Regions from separate parts of the Homo sapiens genome. Here region 1 is linked to region 2. The links come from fine-mapping of genetic effects on gene expression. A gene starts in region 2. The other region holds a variant in brackets. All regions are shown on one strand. Distances are from middle to middle. Region 1 has its middle 22 kb from the start of VDAC1. Region 2 holds the start of VDAC1 (voltage dependent anion channel 1).

Region 1 (2,902 bases), 22 kb before region 2:
TAAATAAATAAATATATAAATGTATACACACACTCAAAGGATGGCTAAAATGCTATAGAAATACCTGGACATGGCCAGGCACAGTGGCTCATGCCTGTAATCTCAGCACTTTGGGAGGCCAAGGCAGGCAGATCACCTGAGGTCAGGAGTTTGAGAGCAGCCTGGTCAACATGGTGAAACCCTGTCTGTACTAAAAATACAAAAATTAGCAGGGTATGGTGGTGGGCGCCTGTAATCCCAGCTACTTGGGAGACTGAGGCAGGAGAATCGCTTGAACCTGAGAGGCGGAGGTTGCAGTGAGCCGAGATCACACCACTGCACTCCAGCCCGGGTGACAAGAGCGAGACTCCATCTCAAAAAAAAAAAAAAAAAAAAGTAGGCAAGATCTGGAAATGAATTTATTATACCAAAAATAACAGAGTTGCAGTCATGGTAGGTGGGCAGGGAGAAGATCACGGGTAATTGAAACAAATGAAAGTTAGTGTTGGTTGTGTTGTCTTTTCAATTAATGTGGGTGGCTCGTTCTTCAGACCTTAGCTCAGCAGTCACCTTTTCAGAGGCTTTTCCAATCTTCTTTGTTTAAGTTGGTCCCCTCTGTATTATTCTGTGTCTCAGTCCCTTTTTTGTCCCACCCTGGCACTTGTCACATTTGCAAATACTTTGTCTCTCCCTGCAGCCTGAGCTGCTGGAAGGAAGGCAGGGAGGGGCTGTCGCTCTCTTGTCCCCCATGTTCTCTCCAGGGCCCGGCACAGCGCCTGCACACCTTGCTGCTCGGGAACTGGTCATGAAGCAGTGGGTCTGAGGGAGACCTGCAGGTGAAGGAGGCAACGGGAGCCCCTCTCATGGCTGCTGATGGGGCGGGAGAGGGAGGAGGGCTGGGATCATCCTATCCAGGGGCCCCTGATCCAGGGACGTCTCAGCACTTTGCAGGCCATTGACTCTTGAGAATCTGATTGAATCAGTGTTTCTCAACCTCATCACTGTTGATATCCTGGGCTAGACATTTCTTTATAGGGCGGGGTTGGGGCCTGTCCTGTGTAAGATGCTTAGCATCACCCCTGGCCACCACCTGGCAGGTGCCAGTAGCAACACCTCTTCCCCAAAGCTGTGAAGTTAAAAACATCTCCAGATATTGTCAAATGCCCCTGGGAGTCCAGGGCCAGGTTGCCCTTGGAACTGGGTCAGAAAACCAGCCTAACGCT[C/G]TAGTGGGAATGAAATCTTTGCAGCTCAGGCTTAGAAGCATTTCTTCAGCAGCCTCAGTTTCCACATCTGTAAATGAGGGAATCTGATGCCAGTTTCACACAGGGGAAAATCTGTCTTGAGAATTTACCTTTGTGCAGATCCATGCAGGCTTGGGGTGACGGGCTTGGAGAGTGCTGCCACTTGTTGGTGAGTAGGTGGGAGTGCACCCATGGCTCATTAAGCTCCAGTCCACAGGGAGGCAACTTGCCTGCCAGGTGGAATGCAGCTGGCTTGGCTGGTAAAGCCCTGGCTCTAAGACTGGGCCAGGGAAGCCGCAAATAAGGCCAGCTAGGGTGTGTGGCAGCCAGGGGAGTCAGTGGGGATGGGACATTTTTCTATCATTTTGATCAAATGTTTAGTGTTTTTTTTTTTTTTTTTTTTTTTCTGAGACGGAGTCTCGCTCTGTCACCCAGGCTGGAGTGCAGTGGCGTGATCTTGGCTCACTGCAAGCTCCACCTCCCGGGTTCACGCCATTCTCCTGCCTCAGCCTCCCGAGTAGCTGAGACTACAGGCGCCCGCCACCACGCCTGGCTAATTTTTTGTATTTTCAGTAGAGACAGGGTTTCACCGTGTTAGACGGTTAGCCAGGATGGTCTTGATCTTCTGACCTCGTGATCTGCCCACCTCGGCCTCCCAAAGTGCTGGGATTACAGGCGTGAGCCACCACACCCAGCCATTTAGTGATGTTTAAAAAAAGTTGGGCCAACTTTGTTTATTTCCCTCTCCCTTTTCCTGCAGATGCAGAGATCCCTCTCCCTTAGAATCTCTCTAATTCAGGGCTTGGATGTTCGGATTTGCATGAGGGCAGGGAGTGTGAGGGTTGGAATCATGTCTAGCTGCTTGCCCGGCAATGACTCCCCGTGGCCAGACTGGTGGTGATTCCAGGCAACTCCCTCCCCCAGGCCAGGCTCGGTGGAAAAGGCAGAAGGTTGGCACTGCCCATGGCAATCCAAACTCACATCTTTCCCTAAACCTGCCCCTCCTCCAACCCAGTAGAGGCTGGGCCAGACCCTGAGTTCCACAGCTAGAAACATCACCTCCATTTGGGAGGCTGAGGTGGGAGGATCGCTTGAGGCCAGGAGTTCAAGACCAGCCTAGGTAAAATAGTGAGACCCTATTTCTATGAAAAAAAATGAAAAGAAACTTAGCTGGGCATGGTGGTGTGCACCTGTAGTCCCAGCTAGTCGGGAGGCTGAGGTGGGAGGATTGCTTGAGCCCAGGAGTTTGAGGTTGCAGTGAGCAGAGATTGCGCCACTGCACTCCAGCCTGGGTGACAGAGTGAGAACTCAAATAAAAATAAATAAATAAATAAGAGAGAGGGAGAGAGGGAAACATCACCTCCATCACTGAATCCTACTGGCTCTACTTCCTAAATAAGTCCAATTCATCCATTTCCCCCACCCCTACTGCTGCCCTCACCTCAATTTGAGCCTCTGATATGGTCTAGATATTTGTCCCTTCCGAATCTTATGTTGACGTGCGAGTCCCAGTGTTGGAGGTGGGGCCTGGTGGGAGGTGTTTGACTCATGGGGGTGAACCTCTTATGAATGATGAATGGCTTGGTGCCCTCCCTATGGTAAAGAGTTATCATGAGATCTGATTGCTTAAAAGAGACCACAACCTCCTCCCAACCCCATGCTCCCTCTTTCGCCATGTGACG
Region 2 (2,902 bases):
GATCTTGAAGGGGGCTCTTCCTTACATTCCCAGTCACCCCTCCCCCAGCCCCTACACAGGGCCTAGGTAACCTGTCTGCACCCCACTCCCACTCTGTATCAGCTGCCCTCTTCCTCAGCACCCTATCCCACTGGAGCACCTTTTCCAACTCCAGTCGCCACTTTTAATCTGCCGCCTTTTCCCAGCAGCCAGTCCTGATTGCCTCCTCCGTAGCCCCAGTTGCCCACTGCTTTAGATAGTGTCGCAGCTGGCTGTGAGGAGTGTCCTGATTCTGTAACCCGGCACCTCCTCCACAGGGCCCTAGACGCCTCAAGCCTTCCAGGACGTTTGTTGATCAAAGGCGAAGGATGTGTAGAATCTTCGTCCATCTACGAATTAATTCTCGAAACCTGCTTCGAGTGGGCCTCGCGCGTAACACAGGGGACACTCAGTGGTGAACGAGACCACTCGCTTAGGCCTAGCAGCGAGGTGACCGTTCACTCAACACACACTAACTGGGTCCCGCAGGACACGCCCCGGCTGGTCGCGGGGGTTACCCGGGGTGCCCTCAGTCGGCCGGCCGGCCATAACCGGCGTGATCTCCTCGCGCCGAGAGACCCAGCAGGGACCTCGCAAAACCCAATCCACGTTTTGTTTTATTTTGTCTTTTTGCCTCTCAAATGCATGGAAATTGGCTGCTAGTAGCTTTGCTACAGGAGAAAATCGCTAATCTGTAGTGCAAAATCGGCGCACAGGGGTTTTCTCTGAGATTGTCTAGACGCCGCGCGGGCGGGTCGGAGGCGCCAGACACATTGTATCCGGAGCGCGGAGCTCGGGAGCAACAGTCGCCGCCTCTACTCTGTATCTGCGCCGCCCCAGGCGCCCAGTGTCCGCGCTGGGCCTGGGACTGCCCTCGGGGGATGGGGCCCACGCGGGCTTTGATGGGGGGCCGGGGGCCACTTTGTCCACCCAGGCGAGGCTTGGGTCCAGCGCCGGCCACATCAACTCCCGGGGGATCTAGCAGCGCGGAGGCCAAGCAGGAGGCCCAGGAGCCCCGCGCGTCTTCCATTAGCGCAGGGACCTCCGGGCCACAGCTCAGAGAATCGGAAGGCCTCCTCCCCCTTCCCGAGCGCTGCCACTGGGGCCGAGGTTTCCAGCAAGAACCCGCGTGTCCCTGCGCACGCACACACGGTGCACACGTCAGTCCGGCGCCTCCCCGTGCCCCGACTCACGCAGGTCCTCCCGCGCGCCCGCAACACGCCCGCAGGCTCCTGTGTCTGCTGCCGGGGCAGCGGGGCCCGGAAGGGTAAGAACGCGGCTCGCTAGCGGGATGGGGACCCTGGCCCGGCCTGGACGCTGTCCCGGGCGGGGCCTGGGGGCGGAGCGCGCCGGGCCGGGCGCGCAGGAGGGGAGGCGGGTCCGCGCCGCCGCCGTCCGCGCCGCCCCGCCCTTGGCCCAGCCGCTCGCTCGGCTCCGCTCCCTGGCTCGGCTCCCTGCCTCCGCGTCGCAGCCCCCGCCGTAGCCGCCTCCGAGCCCGCCGCCACATCCTCTGAGGTAGGCGCAGCGGAAAAGGACCCCGGCTTCCTTGCGCCCTGGACGGCGGGGGCCAGGCCCCTGGGGAGCTGAGAGGGAGGCGCTGAGGGAGGAGCGGGCGAGGGGCCCCGGCAGCCCGGCCGCGGGGAGGGATCGCGAGCGGCCGGCGCGGGCCTGGCTGGTGAGCGGGCGGGCAGAGAAGGCCGCACAGGCGGGTGCCGAACAGGTCTGGGCTGGGGAGCGCGAGGCCGAGGGTCCAGAGACGCCTGCGGCTGGCGGCGAGAGGCGGCCCGGGCTTGCGGGCGGAAGTGCAAGGGCGGCCGCGTGGAGGCCCGGCGGGCCGCGCGTCTAGGTGACCTTCCCCGGCGGCGCCCTCTGGCCCTGGATCCCACCAGCGTGCATCCGGCGGGGACCCGTTCGCCGCCCACGCTCGCCGGACCAGGCCAGCGGGCGGGTGCCGGCCACGCTGCCGCCTCGGGGATGAGCTCACGTGACGACCGTGGCCCCGAGTCCCCAGGCCCACGCGCCCTGGCCGGCCCACGCCCGCAGAAGCTGGCGCCCGGCACCGCCCGCCTGTGCCAGAGCCTTCTAGAGCGGAACGCGCCGGCCGAGAGTCGACTTAGGCGGTAGAGGCCGGAGCTCGGGCCTGGGCTGAAGGTTTGGCCTCGGAAAAGGAGGCCCCACGGGGAAGGATGTGGCCTTCTTGGTCTTAGGAGTGATTACTGGTTCGGTCGTTCATTCATTCGCCAAATGCGGCGGTGCATTCTGGAAACTGTTTCGGAGCCTGACTTTGGATTAGAGGCCCGCAGTCTTAGTGGTTTGTACAAGGTCACACAGCTGGGAAGTCCCCATACCTTCGTTTTCTCATCTATAGGACGGGAGCAATTGTACCTCTCCTTCGATGAGTTTTGGGGAATAATAAAATGAATTAATTAGCATGAAACCTTTAGAACAGTGCCGGTGTGGAGAAGGGCTAAGTAGAAACCCTGACACCCTTGGGGCTTTTTGGGTGAATCCAGCCCATCCCCCGCAGACCATTTTGCTACACGTGGCGTTGTGGAAGGGGTTCAATAAATGTAGCTCCTGTTTTTAAACATTCTTTCACTATTATTGACAAGCATTTGTATACCAGGTATTGAGTAACTTTCAGCTTAATTTATGAAAAATCTTGTAAGTTTACAAATGGACATTGTCAAGCTGGAGCAGTAAGTTTGCATGTGGAGATCTTGAATGCAGGAGCAGACCCTGGTTTAGAGCCCGTTCCGCCCGGGGTCCCTGTCCCCTTGACTAGCCTCCCCTCTCCTGGGGAGATAGGGGAAAGGGCTCCTCTGTTGCCTAAACTTCTCCACTGAGGCAGGAGAAGGCCAGAGCAGACTACCGAGGGCCAGCC

Evidence for each region. PIP is the estimated chance that this variant, and not a neighbour inherited with it, causes the effect. A credible set is the group of variants that fine-mapping cannot tell apart.
Region 1: its variant is the best candidate, but not a certain one, in a credible set for the expression of VDAC1 in lung (TOPMed, PIP 0.70).

What each region holds. Positions count from the first base shown.
Region 1 is chr5:134,025,241-134,028,142 of GRCh38, reverse strand. It overlaps a transcript of VDAC1 not described here. Among named protein-coding and RNA genes, the nearest start is that of VDAC1, 22 kb to the right of the region's middle. The variant C/G (reference allele first, on the strand shown) is at 1,203.
Region 2 is chr5:134,003,278-134,006,179 of GRCh38, reverse strand. VDAC1 (voltage dependent anion channel 1) reads left to right here and starts at 1,205. Exons shown (of 9, transcript NM_003374.3): 1 at 1,205-1,285. RefSeq lists enhancers at 362-431, 472-531, 602-721, 2,372-2,421, 2,432-2,481 and silencers at 892-941, 982-1,041, 1,102-2,141.